3 linked regions of the Homo sapiens genome follow. The protein of the gene in region 2 interacts with the protein of the main gene of each other region in a pairwise test. Each region holds a gene or a part of one and is shown on either strand. Other genes may lie near its edges.

What was found. Proteins that work in one complex are often made in the same cells at the same time.
Region 1: the proteins of SATB2 (region 2) and POLR2J3 interact in binary tests that used the Homo sapiens proteins (3 or more experiments, as listed by UniProt).
Region 3: the proteins of SATB2 (region 2) and FOXP2 come close enough for resonance energy transfer, tested with the Homo sapiens proteins (one study listed by BioGRID).

The regions. Positions count from the first base shown.
Region 1 is NC_000007.14:102,565,154-102,570,084, reverse strand, and holds the end of POLR2J3 (DNA-directed RNA polymerase II subunit RPB11-b2), read left to right. Parts: intron 1-160; coding exon 161-250; intron 251-1,900; coding exon 1,901-2,075; intron 2,076-3,001; coding exon 3,002-3,034; 3' UTR 3,035-3,119; downstream 3,120-4,931. UniProt on the Homo sapiens protein: DNA-dependent RNA polymerase catalyzes the transcription of DNA into RNA using the four ribonucleoside triphosphates as substrates. Component of RNA polymerase II which synthesizes mRNA precursors and many functional non-coding RNAs.
Region 2 is NC_000002.12:199,446,788-199,455,600, reverse strand, and holds part of SATB2 (DNA-binding protein SATB2), read left to right. Parts: intron 1-8,813. UniProt on the Homo sapiens protein: Binds to DNA, at nuclear matrix- or scaffold-associated regions. Thought to recognize the sugar-phosphate structure of double-stranded DNA.
Region 3 is NC_000007.14:114,409,779-114,419,126, forward strand, and holds the start of FOXP2 (forkhead box protein P2), read left to right. Parts: upstream 1-5,036; 5' UTR 5,037-5,582; intron 5,583-9,348. UniProt on the Homo sapiens protein: Transcriptional repressor that may play a role in the specification and differentiation of lung epithelium. May also play a role in developing neural, gastrointestinal and cardiovascular tissues.

The sequences.
Region 1 (4,931 bases), on a different chromosome or scaffold from region 2:
TTGAACTTCTGACCTCAGGTCATCCATCCACCTCAGCCTCCCAAAGTGTTGGGATTACAGACACGAGCCACCACACCTGGCCGGGAGGAGACAGGGTTTAGACTCAGGGTGGGAGGAGGGGAGCCCCTGCTCCTCATCTGTGGCCTCTGTGTCTTCCTAGGATCACCATTAACAAGGACACCAAGGTACCCAATGCCTGTTTATTCACCATCAACAAAGAAGACCACACACTGGGAAACATCATTAAATCGTAAGTTTCCCGTCACAGGCTCTCAGGGGCTATGTTTAATGGGCCCCTCTGGGCAAAGCACAAGTTCCAAGTCTTCCTCAGTCTCTCTGAGCTACAGGAAGTCCTTCTGGGGGCTTGCTCTGGGCATTTTATAATCTTGGTACCTTTTTATCAAAATGACACCGACCTCCATGTCTTCACATAAGCCACACTTCTGTAGTGGCTTATTCTGTAGATGAACACGTGCATTTACATTCACTGTTTGTTTGTTTGTTTGTTTTTGAGATGGAATTTTCTCTCTTTGTTGCCCAGGCTGGAGTGCAATGGCACGATCTTGCTCACTGCAACCTCCGCCTCCCGGGTTCAAGTGATTCTCCTGCTTCAGCCTTCCTAGTAGCTGGGACTACAGGCCCACGCCACGATGCCCGGCTAATTTTTGTGTTTTTAGTAGAGACGGGGATTCACTGTGTTGGCCAGGCTGGTCTCGAACTCCTGACCTCAGGTGATCCACCTGCTGGCTTCCCAAAGTGCTGGGATTAGAGACGTGAGCTACTGCGCCCGGCCTTACATTCACCATTAAGTGCACATTCTGTAAATGAACGAGCAGCAGATTCCAGCACAGTAGGCCTGTTTGTTATTCATGCTGAGGGACATTGAAAAGCAGTCAAGATTAGCTCCCCTCATGCCACCCGTTTGTGACCTCAGTGCCACCTGGGCCTCTAAGATGTATGTGGCAGAGACTAGAACTTCTATTTAACAAGAGAAAGAAGTAGGAGTTCTGTGGCTATCCAGTGCCCCTAATGGGCACCCTGCATTGGTTGGTGGGTGTTTGTTTATACCAGTGAGGTCCTAGCCAGGTGGTTGGTCAGGGATGTGTCTGCCATTCTGGCCCAGGGACTTGCCATTTTACTGTAGACTTGGCTCTTCCCTCTGGTGCCACCAGCGAAGCCAGGCTTTTCCCCGTCTGTGAGTGGGGTCTGCCCAGTCTCCTGGTGTGGTCAGGCACGGGGATGGAGGAATCCTGCCCGGAGCCCAGCCAGTGGGGCACCCAAGCTCTCCTGGGGCCCTGCTGCTCCCCTGCTCTTGAGCTCAGTGTTGCCACCTATGCACGGGTCCCCCTTGTGGTGCTCACGCCACTCTGAGCCACTCTAGAGGAGACCCCTGCATGCCCAGGGCACAGTACGCGATGCAGCCCCATGGCACAAGGCCCAGTGTGCGTGGCCAGCCGCTGGCGGCTGTGCTGCTCGGAGGGCAGAGTTCCATTTGCATTCCACTCACTGCCGGGAGCTGGCCCTCCTCTCCTGCTGCCTTTATTTGCTGCGTGGAGGCTCTTTGTGGGCTTTTTGGGTCTGAGTCACTGAACACTGGCTGGACATTCACTGCCTGGGAGATCTCTTTGCCAGCACTGCGGTGCCCGGTGGGAAGAGGTTGCTGGAATCTCTTTCCAGCTCGGGTCCTTCAACCTCATGGATGCAGAGTGTGTGTGTGTGGCGGGGATAGGGTGTCCCCACATGAGGTATCTTCCTAAAAGTGTTACTTTCCTTGAAGACTTTTTGGGAAAAAAGTTGGGGGGGATTTTTGGCTAGAAAGTCTGTTCTTCTGCTCTGAGCTGGCTGCTACCCAGCTTGGGCATGAGGCTAGACCCTCACACTGTCTGTCCCTGGACCTCAGACAACTCCTAAAAGACCCGCAAGTGCTATTTGCTGGCTACAAAGTCCCCCACCCCTTGGAGCACAAGATCATCATCCGAGTGCAGACCACGCCGGACTACAGCCCCCAGGAAGCCTTTACCAACGCCATCACCGACCTCATCAGTGAGCTGTCCCTGCTGGAGGAGCGCTTCCGGGTGAGGGCGGGGCCTGGAGGGGCAGACGGGGTGGGCTGGACACTGGCCCGTGTGCCCAGGCCTGGGACAGCCCTGGCCTGTTTCTTCGGAGGTCCTCAGGGAGAGGCGGCGGTGATGGAAGAACAGGGACTTCCACCACAGGCTCCAGGACATGTGGACTGAGGGGCTGTGGAGTCTGGGCCTGTGGCTCCCGTCTGCCCCATGGGACTTCTGTAGTGCTGCAGGGTCCCTCGGGTGCTGTGGGCCAGATCCGGGCGGGGACCTACTGTCCTTTGGGGGTGCTCTTCTACGTCCCTTGTCGGTGATTGGCAAGGCCTGGTCCTTCCAGGCCTCTGGGAGGCAGCTCACCCCAGGGTGGCCCACACCTGTTCCTAGCAGGGCGCCTGGGAATCTAGAACAGTTTAGAGGGGAAAGAGCCACAGCAAAGAAAAGCCGAGGCAGGGTGATCACGAGGTCAGGAGTTCAAGACCAGCCTGGCAAACATGGTGAAGCCCTGTTTCTACTAAAAATACAAAAATTAGCTAGGCATGGTGGCATGTGCTGTAGTCCCAGCTACTCGGGAGGCTGAGGCAGGAGAATCGCTTGAACCCGGGAGGCGGAGGTTGCAGTGAGCCGAGATTGTGCCACTGCACTCCAGCCTAGGTAACAGAGCAGGACTCCATCTCAGTCAATCAATCAATCAATCAATCTCAGCGGTTGAACTACCCTTGACATGGTTCAGCTCTGTATCCACACCCAAATGTCATGTCAAATTGTAATTCCCAGTGTTGTGGGAGGGACCTGGTGGGAGGTGATTGGCTCATGGGGGCCGACTTCCCCCTTGCTGTTCTCGTGATATTGAGTGAGCGCTTGTGGGATCTGGTTGTTTAAAAGCGTGCAGCCCTCCCACTTCACTCTCTCTGTCTCTCCTGCTCCAACATGGCCAGACGTGCCTGCTTCCCCTTCGCCTTCTGCCGTGATTGTCAGTTTCCTGAGGCCTCCCCAGCCACGCTTCCTGTACAGCCTGCAGAACTGTGAGTCAATTAAACCTCTTTTCTTCATAAATTACCCAGTTTCTCATAGTTCTTTATAGCAGTGTGAAAACAGACTAATGGACCCTTCTGGTTGAAGGAATGCAGCCATTCTGCTTGTTTGACTATGTCCTTTCTATTCATCTCTATTTCCTGGGAGGTGTTTATCCAAGTGCAATAGGAGGTATTGGTGACCGCACAGTCCCCTCAGTGTTCTGCTAGTAAATAGTTGAAGGTTGATCATTGATCTTCTGCGTTTTCAGTCTGGCATGGAAAAGCCCCTGTGCAACTGGTAAAGATATCAATAAGCACCAGGAGGTATCTAAATCCACCAGGAGCCATAGGCATCACGTTGACATCCATTTACCAGTCTTCCCTGGCAAGATTCTTCTGAATTGTGCTGCCTTGGCCAAAAGAGGTATGGGAGGGGCTGGGCGCAGTGGCTTGTGCCTGTAATCCCAACATTTTGGGAAACCAATTCAGGTGGATCGTTAGAGGTCAGGGGTTCAAGACCATCCTGGCCAACATGGTGACATCCCATCTCTACTAAAAATACAATAAGTTAGCTGGGTTTGGTGTTGGGTGCCTGTAATCCCAGCTACTCGAGAGGCTGAGGCAGGATAATCGCTTGAACCTGGGAGGAGGAGGTGGCAGTGAGCTGAGATCGTGCCATTGCACTCCAGCGTGGGCAACAAGAGTGAAACGTCGTCTCAAAAAATAAAAAAAAGGTCCGGGCTTGATGGCTCACACCTGTAATCCCAGCACTTTGGGAGGCCAAGACGGGTGGATCACGAGGTCAGGAGTTCAAGACCAGCCTGGCCTAGATGGTGAAACCCTGTCTCTACTAAAACTACAAATATTAGCTGGGCATGGTGGCATGCACCTGTAATCTCAGCTACTCAGAAGTCTGATGCAGGAGAATTGCTAAAACCCAGGAGGGAGAGGTTGCAGTGAGCCGAGATTGCACCACTGCACTCTAGCCTGGGCGACAGAGCAAGACTCCGTCTCGAAAGAAAGAAAGAAAGAAAGGAAATTCCCCAGGGAAGTACCTCGGCTGATTTCATAAACAGGTACCGAAGGAAGCAGAGGCATGTGGAGGACTTCCCCACCTCATGCAGCTATTTGGGCCATGGCGTCTGAAATTTATTATTTCAGAGTCACCCCTTTGATGACCTTGGCAGTGAACTGCAGTCATCTGTTTAGGCCTTTCCATGGCCCACGTCAATGCCGTTATTTCTGTTTGTTGCACATTTGATTTCCTTGTTGTTGGCATTTAGAAGGCCCCCTGCTTCCCAGATCACACCACGGGCATGGACCACAGAGATTGCATCTTGTGAGTCTGTAGAAATGGTCAAGGCCTTGTCCTCTCTTAGGTCCAGAGCTCAGGTGAATGCAGATTTTCCCGGCCATCTGTGCTGAAGTCCCTGTGGGGAGGCTCCTGGCTGGTTTCCTGTAGGTAGACAGCTACACGTCCTGCCCTTCATTGGCTTCTTTTCATGAAGCTCCTGCCATCTACAAAACATGTCTCCCTTCTTGAATCACATCTCTGTTATTGAAACTCTAGAAGTCAACCGGGCATGGTGGCTATGCCTATAATCCCAGCATTTTGGGATGCCAAGGCGGGTGGATCACCTGAGGTCAGGAGTTCAAGACCAGCCTGACCAACATGGCGAAACCCCGTCTCTAATACAAATACAAAAATTAGCCAAGCATGGTGGTCACTGTACTCCAGCCTGGGTGACAGAGCAAGACTCCGTCTCAAAAAAAAAAAAGAGAAAGAAAGTATCATGCTTTTCTGCATTCTGTGAATTGTTTTAGTGAGTTATCGAACTTGAGGGCATGGTGG
Region 2 (8,813 bases):
TAACTGTTTCTAGATTTTCCTAGAGAGCTTTTTAGTGATTTAACTCTTTTGCCTTGCCTCGGAGTGTCTGTTGTAGGGATGAAGTTCACGTGCGTTCGCTTTTAGGGAATAAAATAGTCATTAATGCTCAGGCGAGTACAGGAACAAGGAGAGTTGATGTTACTTTGTAGTGAGGACAGTGCTTCAAGACAGATGAATGACAACTGGGAATATTTCCTGCCACGTGAAATGTGGGAAATAAAGAATCACCATGAATCCATCAGGCCCTTAGAAGCTTAAATGCTGCTGTTGTCTATAAAGTTTAGTCATATGCATTCGTAACTTTATTATGAATTATAGGAGAACAGATAAAAATAGCAAAGTAGCCTTATCAACTAGATGTAGTTTCCCCTCCAAAGAATTTATTAATAATTTTATTTAAAGAAAATCTTTTGTAGTTTTTACTACTTAAGCAACTACTTTCTTTTAAAGTGGTCAGGAAAAGCAATCATACAAAATAAAGATATGGGAGAAATTTAAACATTGAAATATTTTGGAGTTTGTATGCCATTTGCTTAGTTGTCTTTTACATGTAAAATCCACAATTCCACATGGCATGCAGGTTTTCTGTGTGTTTGGCATAAATCACTAGTTTAATTTTTTTTGCCTCTAACGTTTTTTCTCTAATAATTTCAACAGTAGCCCATTTAATATTCAATATATTAACTTGTCTTAAATGATATAAAACCTTGGCAAACCTTAATGATAAGCTCCCACCCCCTTGTTGTAAGTGTCTATTGTGTGTATTTCAAAATAGTTACTTACATCTAAAAATGTTCATTCCTCCTTAAAGAGTTGAACACATACGTTTTATAAAATCGTATTTTTTTCTTTTTACTTATTTTGCTATTTCTATTTCTTCATGGTAAATACTTAGGATGGTTTGTCTCAGTCTTTCATATTAATCGTCTCACTTGAGAAGTATTCATCCTTTCAATGTTGTGAGTTAAAAAGTTTGGTGATGGATTCTGGCTTGTTTATCTCCCCTTTTTGGGACTTGAAAATATACTTTATTGAAGCAAAAGAAAACAGTTCTGTGACCCACTTTTTAAAAGAGAGGTTTATTAATTTGTTGTCCTGATACTGGAGCAAATAATGTCAGACTTTTGGCATAATCAGTTAGTATATGCATATAAGAAATAAAAATTCATAGAGTATGATGGTACCAATTATGAGATATGCTAAGTGCTGAAAATGTTTGAAAAAGTTCTGAAACTCCTTGGAGACAGTGTGTTCCAAAGTGGCCTTTGTGGACAGAAAAGGCTTGGACTTAAAATTTTGGTATCTTTCTGAAGATCTAATAAAATTCACTAAATTGAAAGGAGCTGTAAACATTTTAGAATGTAATTGTTAACAACGTGCTTCCCTAAAACAAGTTTTTTCCCCTCCTCTATATCATGTTGAACTATGAAAGAAAGTGCCTTGTTCTGTTGACCAGGGATAACTTTAGTGTTAAATAGTGGTTGGTTTTCAAATTTTCTGAGACTATAGTTCACATTTGAGCCCTTATGTGTTTAATATAAACTAAAATTATTATCTTGGTGAAGAATAATAGATTTGTTTCAACCAGCTGCCTTAGACACTTTCTCTTGATTAACTTAATTTAGTAATAGCAGAGGTCTTATTAGCTGCTTCCCAAATTGAAAATAAAGATGACATTATTTTGTCTCAATACATATCGTTTATAATACACGATAGTAAACTGGTTAAAATTGTTTAGTGGAATTTAAATTTTTTTAAAAAAGACAGCATAATAGTGTGTAAAGAGATTAATTTAGACAACTTTAGAATATAACAACTTAGAAGATAAGATTTTGATAGTACAAAGGTTTCTAATTGAATGTTAACAAAATTATGAGTTTAAGTTTATATAATTTCCAAATGTATGTTAAGATGTTAATAGTTTCTTTGTAACTGTTAACCATGTATACAGTTTGGAGCAAAGCCAGGCCTTTTGAAAAATGCACATTCTAAATTTTAAAAAATGTTTAAAATACATTTCTAGTTAGTTTTTTTATAATTAAAGGATTTTTTTGAACATAGAGTAAATATAAAGTAGATTATATTTCTACCATTCTATGTTCTTTTGTTTAAATTTTCTTTATAAAGCAATATAATAAGCATAGATAACTACACAAGTATTTATAGCTCTGTATCATTTATTACCGTTTTCAGATATATTGCAGTCTTTTCAATGGTGTAATGATGGATACAATAAAATTTGTCTTAAAAGTGGAGCCAAAAATTTGGGAGTACATATTTGTTAATCTTTAGTGTTCCTCTTTCTTAAAAGCTGTTCTTTTAAAAATAAGGGAGATCAAGTTAATTGGTTGTCAAATCAAATAGCAATTTATCTTACTGTTTTTGATAAGCAGTGAGGTAAATATAGTTTAAATATACTTCTGAATGCATTGGTTGCAGTAATAAATTCTGCTGTTACTCTACTTATTTAGGTAGAGGGAATTTACTGTGTTTTTTGATGAGAACTAAGTATTCATAAAAGAAGGGGCATTACTTTAGTGTCTCAATTTAAATAGAAGAGAGGGTAGATACACTGTCACTGTCTTTAAGGTTGTGTTTTAACAGGGGACTTAAAAGTGGATTGTTTACTATGTGGTTAGCTTTAGAAGACTGTTAGAAACTAGATGTTTTGCTTTGTCTTTCCAACACTTTCTGGGATGTTTTTACTCTTATCTGAGCAGTGTGTTTTAAAGCATGTATGTAATAAAATGTAAGTGCTCAGATGTGTATGTCAGTCAGCTTTTACAGACGGTCCTTAGGAAAAAAAAAAGGCTAATATCTCTTTAAAAAACATATGAAGGCTAGGAGAGAGTTTAGAGCTAGCAAGAGCACCATGGTGTTGACAGCTTTATATCCCTGCTGGGTAACATTCACTTACTAGAATTGGCGTCCCCTCTCAGCTAGTAATTCACTCCATAAGGATTTTGAAAAAGGATGATTAATGGTGGGGAAATTTATATTTGTGAAATTGTTGATTAAAACTTACAGATCTATTTGAAGATTTAGGAAAAGAAGGGATTATTAAGGATGATGAAAATAAGAATCAGATGATCCTTTTTACCACTATTAGCATAAGTACCTAAAATGTTCTGCTGTATGGAATGCTTCAGCCATGCAACTTACAGCATAAAATGAAAGTGATGCCAATCAAGTTTCCAGAGGAAGCAAGGCATTCTGCTTTTCTCCTGGACTGCTGAAAGGTGCTGGCCAGTTGTGCTTTAATAGCAATAAATTATTGTGCTTCATTCATTGTTAACACAAGCATTTTCATTTTTTAATGTTTGGCTTAAAGAAGAACTTTCAGACAGCTTTATTTAAACTGAATGAACAGCGCTTGAATATACCAGATGGTGTATTTGCTGATAGGAGACATTAAACATCAGAAATCTTTTTGATATTTTTCATTTTCCTATGAATTTTTATGATTTTTTGGTGTTAAATGTTCTACATTTTAGGGAAAAATATTTAAACATTGAAAATATCTTTTAGAGAGATTTGCTTTTTTTATTAAAAAAACTTGCTTATTTCTGAAAAATAATTTATGTTTTATAAATAACAATTTAATTTTGTTGGCATACTGTCTGTTAAAGTTATCTTATAACTAGTCTACCTGAAGTAGACCTATTCGTGCTACCAGGCAGCCCTTTCAAGAACATAACTGTCTTGTTGCAAGGGGGAAAAAAATCATTATGCAGTACACACTGATGTATTCAAATAGGGAAGCAAATGTGATCAAGATTGTTAGTCAGGGCCTCATTTAAAGCTGAACATTGTCTACAACAACAGTTAGTTTAATTGTCTACATGTGGAACACTTCCTTTTAGATGAAAAGAAATGCAGTTCGGGTCAGGTGTAGTCACCATATCAGCAACAGTAGAGAGACATTTAACTTTTTGAAAGGAATGCAGATATGAAAGTATAGATAGGTATATATTGAGATTATAAAATACTTAGAAATATATTGTTAACATGGGCAAAATGGAGAAAACTCCATTCCCAAGGATGAATATCATAATATTTGTAGGAAGTACACATTACTTCAAAAGAGAAAAGATTGTATTTCTCCCTCCTCACTTTTTTTTTTTTTTTTTAAGGTTTTAAGATCTTTTAAATAGAATGAACTTAGGCTTTGGGGTCATCCAACAATCTAGCCTGTCCTCTGTAGTTTTGCTGAGGTAGAAAAATAACTCTTCTCTAAAGTGTTTTTAGTTCTTGGCCTGTTATTAAAATAAAGATATACTTGGTTAAAAAAATATATGCAGTGGAACATACACATTAAACAGAACATAGGGTATCCGCCCCTCAAAGTCCTGAGCATAATTTGATGTTTCAAGTAATTTTGGAAGCCTTATGTTCCATCAGAAGAAACCCACTGACCATTGTATACTCAAGATCATCTGTAGTGCAGTGTGTGTGTGTGTGTGTGTGTGTGTGTGTGTGTGTGTGTGTTGGAACTACATAGATGTCCCTTAAGGCATCTGTTTTTTAACCCCTGCAGAAAATAAGCAATATCATCCTTTCCCAGAGGGTTGTAACCAGCAAAGTCTGTACATATGAGATATCCTGTTTGAATTCTTCTTTTCTTTCTTGAATTTTGTTTTAACCAATCTATCTCTGTAGAGAAGGGAAAACAGACTAATCATCATTTATTAGATAGCTAAGAATATGAATTTGAGTCATTTTAAGTATACGGAAATCAGTTTTATTCCAGGAAAGACTACAGTAATTATTTGGTATATCTGACAAAGTAGTAAGCAGTGAAGTTTGATGGTTATAATTTAAAACCCCTATTTTTCTTTCTTTTTAAAAAGTATTTATTATAGAATCAGCATATGTGTATATATTTAAAAAGACATGTTAAATTTACAGGGCTAGATGAATTCCAAATAGTATTATTTTCTTGGGTTATACTTATCTTTTAAAGCTTTTTAGGTTTCTGTTGGAATAAAATTTCTCACCATTAAAATGTTTCTTATGACTAAGAACCCACATTAGGTGTGTAAAATATGTACATTGTTTTATTTCAGAAAGCCAAACTTTATCCTATATAGCATGTAAATTAATAAAGAATTCTTTATATTGTTTAATCAGTAGGCTTTTAAAAAACCTATATAACTAATATATGGTAACATAGTAATTTTTACTATCTTCCTTACATGAATACTGAGATACAATGGCATTTTGGAACATATTTAAAGATGGAGCATTTGACAAAAGTTGTATGTGTAACAGTTTGTCAGTGAAAAGTGACAAGTGGGAAATGACAAATGAAATGTTGGCATCATCACTCTTTATTTTGATAAAAATGTCTCAATTTGCAGTGATATAATACTGTTTCATATTATTTCATGAGTTGTGTGAGAATGCATAAGGGGAATTTAGATTTTGTGAACGGAAAATTAGCAGCCCAAAGTCTCTTTTCAGAAGCTTTGGCAGCAAGTTCCCCGTCTCCCCCACTCCCCAAGAATAAGAACAGCAGTGAAATGTTGGATCTAACCCATACATTTTAACTCATTATTTTTTGGAAAAAACAGAGAAATAACCTAAAATGGTTTCGAGTAGGAGACCTTTATGCTTAACTCAAAAAAATGAAGAAAAGAGTTTGCCTTTTAGTTTCTATTCTTTTCTTTGTAGCAATTTTTAAATGAATGATTTGCCTCTACTGACTTTGATTGTATGGTCTTTTTTCACTTCCAATCAACACTGCTCTCCAGCATTAATTTAGGGTGCCAGTAAGGAGAGCTGTGAATTCCTGTTATTTTAAAATGCAATAGAGGTTTTGAAAATGTCTGTGGTGAAAATGGATTTTTATATACAAAAGATTCATCATCCTACTACTTAAATGTAATGTGATAAATATTTCAAAGTCAAAGTAGATGCCCTGAGTGGAACTGAGGTATGACTAAAACAAAAACCAGTTGAGGACTTACAGAGTTTGAAAAAAGCACAGTTGTAGTCATTATAGTATGCTATTTTCCGTTGCTCTTTATTGTTAGCAATTAACCAAACATTATTTTTCTTCTTTTATGTAGAAACAAGCCCTGTAAGCATAACATGCTACAGTGTTTTTGTAAAAATGTTCCATGGTGGAGTTTTCAAAATTATGGAACTCTAGCTATATATATTTGTTTCAATTAACAGAATTATTTTGCTTTTTAGTAGCAAGTGATTTAAGAATTGTGGTAAAATCAGTATAATTAAGTGGCACTGAAAGGCTACATCAGAAATTGCATTCTACAACTTCTGTATCTTTGCTGCTCAATTAAAAAGTTTTACTTATTTCAGATTTTTAAAAAACTAGATAAAAAGACATAATATGGAACAAGTGTGCTTTAGATATATAATTATGACAATAGAGTTTATGGCATGCATTTTTTTTCCCCTTTTTAATTGATGTCCTTTAACTTAAACAAGTGGATGTTATGGTTATTAGTTTGACAAATGCCTAAAATGCAGATAAAAGCATGAATAGAAATTTTAAGAATTTGAAACTTGCAATAAAGTTATCAGCAAACTATGTCAGTTTTATAGTAAGCATATTCTTTATTAATGATTATGACACATAGGACAGGAAAACCTTCTGGGGAAATATATTTCAATTTTAGTTGCTCCTGGTACTGTTACTCACTAATAGTGTGTGGGCAGATTCAGTTCTGCTCTTACCTAGTAGCCGTATCATTGGAATGGAGTTCTATCGTAGTACAGTTGGTTATTAAACTGTAAAATAACAAAAAAGATCAAAAAATTAAGGGGAGGCACTGCAAGCTACTATTTATCAAAAGGGATCCATTTCAAACCAGGGTAACTGGTGCCCACTGATGGTTGCACAGTTACTGAAATGTGCACAGCAGCTCAGTGTCTTTCTTTTGTTTATTTGACTGAAGACTTACACAGATATTTATGTATATAATATATAAAATAAGAGACTCTAGTTAGAGCAAATGTTTTCCAAAGTGCTAAGATCTGACAGAGGTGATTTGCAGGGGTTTGTCGTAGAAACAGCGTGAATTTCATCACGTTAACCACATATATCTTTTTCTTTCTTTAAAAAATACTTTTTACTTGTTTTTGCATTTGGCTGGAAAGCAAGTGTATCAGTTCTTTCATAACTGATTGTGATTGATTTTTTTTTTAACACAAGAAAATATTTTCTTTGCAAAGAGAGCAAATTTGATTGGATGCCATGCCCAAGACTCCTGGGAAAGGACCAAAGGACCAAAGGCATAAAGTAAAAATAACTGTATTTTTAGATTTCCCAATTATGTCCTATATTAAAATTGAGTACTTTTATTGCATTTGTTTCAATTATTATTACATATAAGGAAAGGCAAAATTGATATATTTAATAGCTTACTGACGATGCATTCATATCAAAACACTTGAAATAGCAATAGCATTTTTGAAATATTATTTTTTGGGGGTTAACAGAACAAGAACTTTCTTTTGTCATAATCCAAAGATGCTAACAGAGCAGCATGATAAATGTCTCTTTAAGTGTCGTAGTAAAAGAAAATGACTTGTCTTCTGAGGCAGTGGAGAGTTTATGTTGTTTTGGACCCATTTCCCAAGCAGTGATCGAAAACAGATTACAATAACAATTATACAGTCAGAAGATGCAATATCCATTTCTGCTTTAATTGAGTGAAAGAATAATAAAAACATCATTAAGAAAAATGAGGTGGACCTGTCACACAATGTACAAATTTTTAGTCTTGGAGAAGATGCAGAAAAACTGAAGTGCTTTTCGCATACTTTGTTGTGTTTATTAGCTAAAATCTGTTTTAGGGAGAGACCATTTGGCTCTCATTCTTCCCTGGGAAGTTCAAAGAGGAGCCCATGGAAAGTGGTTGCCCAGGAGACATTACAAATGACCATTGACTTTGTCTTCATACACAGTTTGACCAGGAAAATCCCATTTTCTTAAATTCTACCTGAGGTGGAACTACTCTCTCCCCCTCCTTTTTTTTTGTCTCTGTAAATGGAAGTCAGAAGTAATGAATGTTCCTCTTGTTACAAAGCCCAGCCAAGTAAGGGTTAGATGGGGTTCCTAGGCCTGCTGTTCTTCCTCTTCCCAAAGTCCAAACTAGGCTGAAGGGGAGAGAGTTGAGGCTGAATAATGAGCACCCTCATTTCTTCTCAGCACACACCGGGGTAACCTGAGTTGCTCTGTGGGCACATCACCTGAGGTGTACTCACCTGACTGTCACCTGAAATGCAGAGGCTCTTGCTTCGACCTGCAATCCTCTGAATTATGAAATCGATGTCCTTAACATTGCTGAGACTCTGGCTCTCATTCCACAGAGCTATGCTTTCAGCAACTCCGAATGAACCGCCAGGCAGCAGGGGCTGCCTGGGGCTCGTTTTGCCTCACTCTGGGCTGTATTTGTTACTCTATTAATAGAAACTGTGAGCTCCTGAAGAAACCTAGGTGGTGACGGTGGAGTTCACCCGGGAACCTTGACTTAGGGTGGGGATACCTGAGGTGGGGATAACTCGGGTTACCCCCATGTGTGGTGGGGATACTAAAACTGCAGATAATGTCGGCCATCAGAGTAGTCAGAGCTCCAGGTTTTACTCAGTTGACAGACTTAGGGGGGAATATTTCTTTCATCTGTCGCTGAGTTTCTTGGATTTAATATTTAAAAACCTTCCTGAGGTGACAAAATGAAAGAAACAAGATAGGCAGTACATCCTCCTGGTGGAGGTCTCATAATTTCAGAACTCTCCCGAGCATTTATCATCCCTTTTAGAGT
Region 3 (9,348 bases), on a different chromosome or scaffold from region 2:
AATTAACTTTCCTAAAACATCTGTAATCTTATAATTCTCCAGATTTGATAACCATCTTGATACTCCCTGTTGCCCATGGAATACAATTTGGGCTTCTCCTTCTGACACCTCCAGTTTCAGACCTAACTCACCCTAGTGTATTCCATTACTCACTGACTGACTAAGCTCCAATCTATCTGAACCACATGCCTGCCTTGGGATAGAACTCATCATTATGTCTTTAGTTTTGCTTCACTTTTTCTGGAGCACTGTCAAATATATTTCCTCTTAAAAAAATCCTGCCTGTTATTTGGGGGGCAGTTCCAATACTGGGATCTTCGCCATATAGACTTCTTTGTTCTCTCAGCTATTATCTTTCCTAGTTCAGAACACACACCACTAAATGGCGTTGTACTCTCTTCACATATTCCTCATACTCTATATTCTAGGCAGGGTTAGATACATATCTGTAGTACTTGATTGAGAGTTTTCAGGGCAGAGACTAGATCGGATTTTACTATGAATTCTTCTCCTACTTTCCCATGACACCCAACAGAGTACTCTGTACGTAGAAGATATTCTGTAAATAAAGTTTATTAGGGAAACATTGTGGCAGAACAGAAAGAACACAGGCATTTGAGTCAAAAAAGACATAGATATTGTTTGACCCTGAGGAACTTAAAATATGGGAGTCCCACTGTCTTCATCTGTAAAAAAGGTAATATTATCTGCTTTTCAGGCTGGAGGGAAGGATTAGATATGATGCATGTAAACATTCATAATATGCCTGGATGTAGTAGATGCTCAATAAATATTTTCCTTTTTGTTTTATGTAACAAAACTTATTTCTTCTATTGTCTACCATAAAAAGTATGGCAGTGCATGTGAGATTGATCACTGTGTATAGATGAGGAGAGTTGACTTTCAATAAACAGTATGTGTTTCCTTGAGAAAAAATTACCACCGCCTTTGGAAAAGATGTCTTGGATATGTTATAGCTATACACAGGTAGTTTCCGAACTTGCATCTCTCAACTATTCTTTCTCTGAAATACCCCTCTCAATAATACTGTTGGAGTGTAGGCAGTAGAAAATAGTAGATGAAGGTGGCAGTAGCCAAAAAAAAAAAGAAAAGACTTGTCACTTTCATCTATTAAGTATTAGATTTATTTATTCATTTAGGCAACAAATATTTCAAGACTTTATATGTAGGTTATGCTAGTAGATAGAGTATCTAACATAAAACATTGCACTCTCAGCGAACTTAGTGTTTGGGACAGGAAGATAAAATGCATACATAAATGGCAATGGGAAAAAAGACACATGAGTAAGGTATTAAGATTGGGATTCAGTGCAACTCTGGAGCCAAACTTATGTGGTGGCCACAGAAGAACACTGTGTTTTGAAACCTCACATCGCCAAAGGTATACCATATTCTTTATCTGGCTTTCGATTTTGGATTACTGTAATGGTATGTGAATGTGCTTAGACTAATAGAAAGGAAATTGGGATTAGCCCCAAGCCTGTGTTATGTATTAAAATGCTGATTAAAATAAATAGAAATGAAATTTTTCCCACTCAAGTTTCTGACAACAAATACACCTGTAACTCAAATCAGACACACATTTGAAAAAGCACAGAATTCCCCTGTAGTTTATATTCATTTTTATGTGAGATTAAATAGAAGGTAAGCATAACGCTCAAAATATGGAGACTTGACCATTTTTGAATAAAGGAATTTCACAGTACTGCTGTAAAACAAAGCAGGCAGTTCTTCCATGTTTCTGTTTTGTTAAAATATGTATTTCATCTTTTATCTGTTTGAAATGGTGGCTGCAATTTAGTAAATGCCACCGATTTAGTTTAGATTTTATTGTTACAATGTTACAGTTTTGATAGCACTGGGCATTTTTTCCTGTTAGTTTGTTCTGCTGCTTTCAAGATTGGTATTTAATCAGTGTCCTAGCTCATTCGATGTGTCTTGCTTATAGATCCCTCTGCACTAGAGAGAAGAACCAAGTCTTCTCAAAGCTGACAGTTGTCCAGGGGATTTACAACTGATCATATCCAGTGTGGGGGAAATTTGACCTTTCATACATTCTTTTCCATAACTATTTTGGGGGAAAACAAGATTAGTTTTCATGGAGCCAGTGCATGGCACATAGTAGGTATTCAATGTGTTTTTGAAATAGATTTTAATACAGCAAAATGTTTGCTATGTTATGCCTTGAAATGTGCTTGTTTTGAACAAACTCAGGTGTCATAGTACAAAATTACCAGTGTTATAGTTCAGTGGAATTGCTAATAGGTCATCTCATGTTTAAGAAATTAAAAAATATTTTTAAAGATTTGCTATTGGAAGAAATCATAATAAGGGCATAGAAAGAAAACACCACAGTCTGGTTAGCAATCTATTTTTAAAATTACTATGATTATTTTGGAAGATATAAGTTAAAATTTTTTTACTTAGTGGCATCTTCCTGATCACGTACCTGCCATAGGGTTATAAAATGAAAGGAGTTTTACTATGTAATGTAATGTAGTCATAGTCTTTTATGTTAAGCAAAATTTGATTGTGAAAACTAATATGCAGAGTGTAACATTTTCTTTAATAACCTGGAGTTATTTCCAGGTGATATCGAAGAGTAGTGTGCTGATAGTAAAGAATGTGGGACTCTTCAGGAACAAATGACTTGACAAAATGGTTATACACTTCTTCCTAATACATTTGTGTGTGTGTGAGATTGTTTGTGTTTATTGGGAGGTATTTGCATTAGTTAATTATTTCTTTTCCTAGTTTTTGTCACCTTTATATGTGCTTAGTGAAGCTTGCTATAAATTATTTAGGCCTGAACTGAAGGTTAATGTCATTGTAACCAGCCAAACTTGACGTACCCCGATGCAGCTTTGTGCGGGAGGCACCTATGGCTTGATAGCTGTGTGAAACTGTTGCCTACAGAGATGGGCTCTTGACACTGTCTGCCAGCCTGAGGCTGTCCGCTTTGTGTCTGCTTTAATTGAAAATTAATAGTTAGGGGGTTGCTATGGAAATGATACCATTGCTTGCAGACAGCAAACCCAGCTTTTTGCAAAGAGACACTAGTGGTATTGTTTGTCCTTGTTGACCTCAGAAGTTCAAAAGCCTGGAGGAGGAAAGGAGATGCAAATATTTTACTTAAAAAAATGAATTTACATATTTATAACAATATTTTTGAATGTCAGAGGTATCAATTTTTTTAACTTTTGTTGGTAAAAATGAGTGTAAGCTTTTAAATTTTATGTTAATTGCTACTACACTGCTTTCTAGGTTGATAAGGCACTATTGCTGAAGAGCATTATGTTATCATTTTAGTGAATGTAAACAGATTTGTGTGAAAATGTTATTTGACTGATGTGATAATGGAAACTATCCTTTATTTCCTCTGGAGTACATAAAGTCATTTGTGTCATTGTATACATTATTCACAGTTTCTTTGAAATGTGGAAGCCCTGTAAACTGTGAAGAGTTGGGAGAAAAAATTTTTAAATGAACAAAGCAGACTTAAAAAATATATTCCTGATACTTGAATATTCGCAGTTGTTTAATTCCCTTAAAATATAAGTTACTATTGCTCATATAATTTCATTTGCTTTGTTCACAATCTGATAAAAAAATGTTAAAAATAAATGTTTACAGGTACTTGCCTATTGCATGAGTTTCCTGTGTTTAAATTTTGGTTTAAAAAAAAACCAATATAAACATACTTTTAATGAGTGAATTATTTAACTATAAAATGAAAAAAATTGCTAACAGAATATTAAACGGTTTTGTATCACAGAGCTAAAGAATAAGTGCTTTCAGTTCCTTTCAGGGGAGGTGGAGAAATAGTGCAGCCTCAGGGGTTGAAGGTGAAATGTGAAATTTGCTGTAATTACTTACCCAAAATGTCTGTATTAAAGGCTATTAGAAGCAGTTATTTTAAGTACTTCTTTATACATCTTTCCCTCTTCTGTTTAGTATTTAAATGTGCAACAAAAGTAGTGGCAGATGTTACTCATCTGAAGAAACTAAAACAAGATAAGTCAGTGGCAGGAGTGGTGGCCGGTTAAAGATCTCTTCGAAGTGCTTTGTTCAGTAACTGTTGTTTTGTCTCACATTAAGTTGTAGGTGGGGTGCTGTTAAAGCTTGTCCACTCACGATGGTGTTCAGCTGAGACCTGTGAGTTCAAGTTGTCTTGCCCAGAGTTAAAGGCCATAAAACTAAGACAGTGTCGTTCCTGTCTTGGGTGTAACTCCTAAAAAACTAGTCAGTTCTTGCAATAGGAGGAAAATTATTGCAAATAAACCTTTGATTTACCAGCTTCAGTAAGTTGTTCATTCTGTCTCTGTAGCTGTAGTTTTTACCTTAACAGTTTGAGGCTACCATTTCTCTTCCTTTCATGCTTATGGGGTCCACACAAACCCTGCTAGGCTACCTACAGTATAAAATCTTAAAACTCCATGTGGTGTTGTGAGCTGGTAGCAGATGGACTTTCTTTTGCATCTGCTGTGTACAGACTTGGCTTTGTACTCTTTTCCTGGGGGAGAGAAAGTCTTTCTTCTCTGCTAGTTGATTCCTGTTTTTGTGAAACAGCTAAGAAAACATCTGTGGCAGGCAGAAAAATTGACAAAGGATTGACAAACACCATTAGCTGAAAATTTTCCATTTCATTGCAACTATGCATTGTTTACTTTACTGTAAATATCTTAATACATCATCCTCTGAATATGCTGGCAGAGAAGCTGGAGAACTGTGATTTCAATTAAGGTTAGTAATTGATGGTATCTAGTGTTCAAAGGCTGAAGCTTGATTAACATCTGCTTGGACAAATTGTCATTGTGAAGTGGTTTTGATGTGCATTGAAGATTATTTCTTTCTGGCTTATCTGATGTTGTGGCTGTGAAATGCTTGTCTTGGGTTTGCTTATTTTTGTAAACTACTTCCTTTGGCTGTAAATTGCAGAGCACTGGAGCTTTACCAAAAGTGCAGTGTATAATGGTAAGCTTGTCCTAATAAGGGAAGCAAGAAGTGTATTTATCACAGACATGAAAGCTAACCGAGGACTTGAGAGACTCAAACTGGTGCTTTTGTCTCTCTCTCTCTGTCTTTCTCTCTCTCACACACACACTCACACACTCACACACATGCACACACACACATACACACACACAAAAATGAAGCACTTACTTTAGAAAGATTATGGTAAGCATGCTGGCTCAGTCTTGAACCTTTGTCACCCCTCACGTTGCACACCAAAGACATACCCTAGTGATTAAATGCTGATTTTGTGTACGATTGTCCACGGACGCCAAAACAATCACAGAGCTGCTTGATTTGTTTTAATTACCAGCACAAAATGCCATCAGTCTGGGACGTGATCGGGCAGAGGTGTACTCACAGTAGTGTAAATACTGCTGTAAATAGTTGTCTGATGGTGGCTTTGACAGTGAGCTAGCTTCTGAGTTTTCCCTTCTTTTTATACTGTTTTCTGTGCTGGCTTTTTTGAATCTTCCTAATTTTTCATCTCTTTAACAAACTCCTATGAAGTTGAAACCGGGAAGTTTGCTCTAACATTTCCAGAGAAGGTACGTTACTTTTTGCTAAGAGAATATCTGTAAGAGTTTAGAGAGGGGTGGGATTTTACGATTGCTTTACTGGTAGATTTGGCAATTGCTTTACTTTTTTTTTTTTCTGAGACTGTAGCTCATTGAAATGAACTAGAGCATTGTATCTGTTTGCGAGGGAAAAGCCGGGAGACCAGACACAGGAACTGTTTTTGATCTGTCAGTAGCGTAATGTAGATTTAAGCTATCACTAGTAAAGACAGCAAATAAAGAAGGCCTCTTTTGTATTAAAAAAAAATCTGCAAGATCTTGAGAAGAATAAAGACAGGGTTCCTGCTTTCATGGTTTGATAATAACCATGTCATCTTGCTTTTAGTAAATGCCCCAGTATGTGTCAGGGCGCAAGTTTTTGAAAAGGGAGTTTGACCACACGTTTGGGTGCCTCTCTGTGCCGTGCTGTGTAGAGCAGATGTTTATTTTGTGCTAAAGGGGAAACTCTTTTTGCTAAGCTTGTACAAACATGAAAGGAGTCAGGGCTCAGATGATCTTTGTAGTTTTATATGCATGTTCATGATTTTATTAAAAATTGGTTGGTGGGTCTTTTTCAAATCACTGATTGTGAAGAAATATATATATTTCCAGGAATACACATTGTGAATTGATGAGTAATTTTTAGAAACTGCATTATATTTCTTCAAATAGGTGTGATAGTTTAATACTCGTGTCAGTTAAAAAGGTAGCTTGGCTGGGCTATAAATTACCATTTCTGCACTTTTCATTCTGTCTGCTTCAAAAAAGCGTCTCAGAACCTGGGATCCTATTGGGCCCATCATAGGGCTACAGTAATTGCCTGATGACAACTGAAAATGATAGAATAATTGTCAAGAGAGACATTTTTAATGGGCAAGGTGATTTAAGTATGCATGAACAAGCTATGAGGGAAGATGAGCTTGTTTATGATGCAAGCCAGTATAAACACAGTCGGAGGATGACACAGATAGCTGCACTTTTCCCAGTGACATGAGCAAGTTCTTACTGCAACACCAACAGCTTTTTCCTCTGACCAGTTTGACATTCTTCACCTTCAGGTAATAACGCCTAAATTTCATCCATGTATTTTCACTTTACTGTAGCCTAAGTGACAGGTTTTTGTTTACTAGCCTCCGCGACCAAAAAAAAAAAAAAAAAAAGCACTCTATTTAATGTGTGCTTAGAATAGATCTTGAATCACTTTCACCGTCAATAGTGTGTGTAATACAAAACTTTCATTCTTATTTTCGATTGTTCCTTATCTTTGAACTGTTCTGACTTTAAATCTGATTATCTATAGTTGATTCATAATGCCCTTTTAAAGGCATATTTATTTGTCTTTACAGTCAGCCCTTCTGCTGTACAAGTTTGGAAACAAAGTATACTTGAGAATATGTGGAGAGGTTTAATGATTAGCCTGTTGGTTTTCACGGAAAGCAGAGTCCTATACCTAACAGAGATTACGGTATTGAAGGGTTACAGGTATCTGTTTAGAAATATGGTGCTCTATTAGAAAACAACTTGTTTGACTTTTTTTTTTAAACCCATGTAAAATTTCACAGAATATGCTCACGTTTTATTTTAAAGATCACTAAAATTATATGCATTGAAATACTAATAATCTTTGTAAAAGGTGGATAGATAATTTGTTTACTTTATTATTCATGAAGGCAAGTAAGGCATGGTATTCTGCTATTGTGGGCATATTATTAACATTTCATAGGGATTTGTGCTGGAATGTGGAATGCTGCTTCTTCATAATTTAATACTCCTATGCATAATGAGGTTTGTGATTAGTTGATAGAGAGAATTGGCCCAACTCCATTCTGAAAGCAGATAATTTACATTGTTCTCTAGAGTCTAGAATCTAATAGGTTCTTTAGTGCAATAAAATTAAATGCTACATGTTTTAAATTTCAGCATACAAATCCCCCTGGCAATTTTCTGTTTTTAATTTTTGCCTTTTGTTTCCTCTAAAACAATGAATTTTAAAAATTGTTTCTAGAACATATATTTACCTAGCTCTTTTATTTAGTATGTACAAGTCAATTAGCACTGTTCATTAGCAGAATTGGGTATTTGTTTTAAAGTTTAACCAATCACTTTGAAATGCTAATTATGATGTAATTTAATTGCAAGTCCTGTAATGATGATGCTGATATTATCGACATAAATGATGCAGTTAAGCAGTGGAATCTCATTTGCATATGCTTAAAGCAAGTTGAATTGGGCTGTTTCAATATCACTTTGCTTTAATTTTCCACCTCTGTTCACACCAGCCCTTTGGGTTTTTAAAGCTGTGGTTTCCTATTGATGATCAGTGCTTTCATCTTTATTTTAATGACAAAGGGGCAACAACTGACACTGGAACTGTAAAAATGAAAAGCAAATAATTACTTCTATTAAATATACGAACTATGAAACCTTTTTTGGTAATGATCATTCTTTAGAAACTGACAAATGCATGCATTTTTGGTATTTTCTTATAGCATTCTTACACTTGGAAATGATACTATGAAAGAAATACACGAACTGATATACAGTAAAGTGCTATGCCCCAAGATGTTTCTACTTTGTGAAAAGTACTTTATTGCATCTTAAAATGTTGTAGAAAGTAGACATTGCAATACATTTTTCAAAAACTTTCTGTGCATTCAGATTTTTGTGAGGGTATATTCCTTTAAAAGGAACAACAAGGCGTTATACTCATGATTGAGCTGATATTAAACTCCAGTGGTTATCTGTTTTTGTAGAGGTTTGGACTTGGGTAATTTTCTTCTGGAAAGATTATTTTTCTTCTGACCAATTTCTCCTGTTATGTCCTAATTGGTTACATAAATCTTGTCTGGTATGAATGAGAAATGTTTCTGTGTTGTCAAGTGTAATCTTCACCCTTATTTACCAATTCATTAAGATCTATTGATGCAGGACTGGTGAGAGGGAATGACAACATAAATCAGCCCTCCAACATAATGACCCTAATCAGCTAGAAATAACTGGAAACGTCATGATGAGCTATGTCTCTGTATTACTTCGGCAAGATTCTGTGGCTAGCGAGGTTTGTGTCTGCTTCGATCATTAACTTTACATCCACTCACCTTCTTCTAAAGAAGTTGTAGTGACTCTTGTTAGTATTACAAAGTTCTTTTTCTCAGACATTTGAATCTTTAGGAACCATAGAAGAAAAAAAGAAAGAGAAAAGGAAACTCACAGAACAGACGTCATGAAGGCTAATTAAAGCAGAAAAGAAACAAAGCTATTGTAGTGTTTTAAAGAACTTTCTGGTGATGATTGAAGCTGTGGGTTCAAAAAAAAAAGCTATACAGAAGGTCAATGGCTTTTTTTTATGAGAACCTGTCGATCGCAAAGGATTCAGGCGTATATCTTTCATGTTTAGTTAAACTGAGGCAAATGTTTTAAGTATACTTATAAGAATGATGTGGCTATTTCAATAAACCCAGGTGCCTCCAATCTGCCTTCTGATTCTTCTGTAAGAACTCATAATGACTTTCTTCTAAATTGGAATAACAGTGTGTTTCCTAGAGCTCTAACTGAAAGACTAGTAATTAAAATAAAACTGACAAATGATAATGTAAAATTTTTCTGTCTAAATGCATTAAATTGTAATGCTAAACACACACTCTTCTCAGTTGCTTTTATCAACTGGCTATATTTTTCCTGCATTTTGCCTGTATTATTAAATGCTAAGTTACAGAATACATCTATGCTAACTGACTGTGCATATAAAGGCAATTGT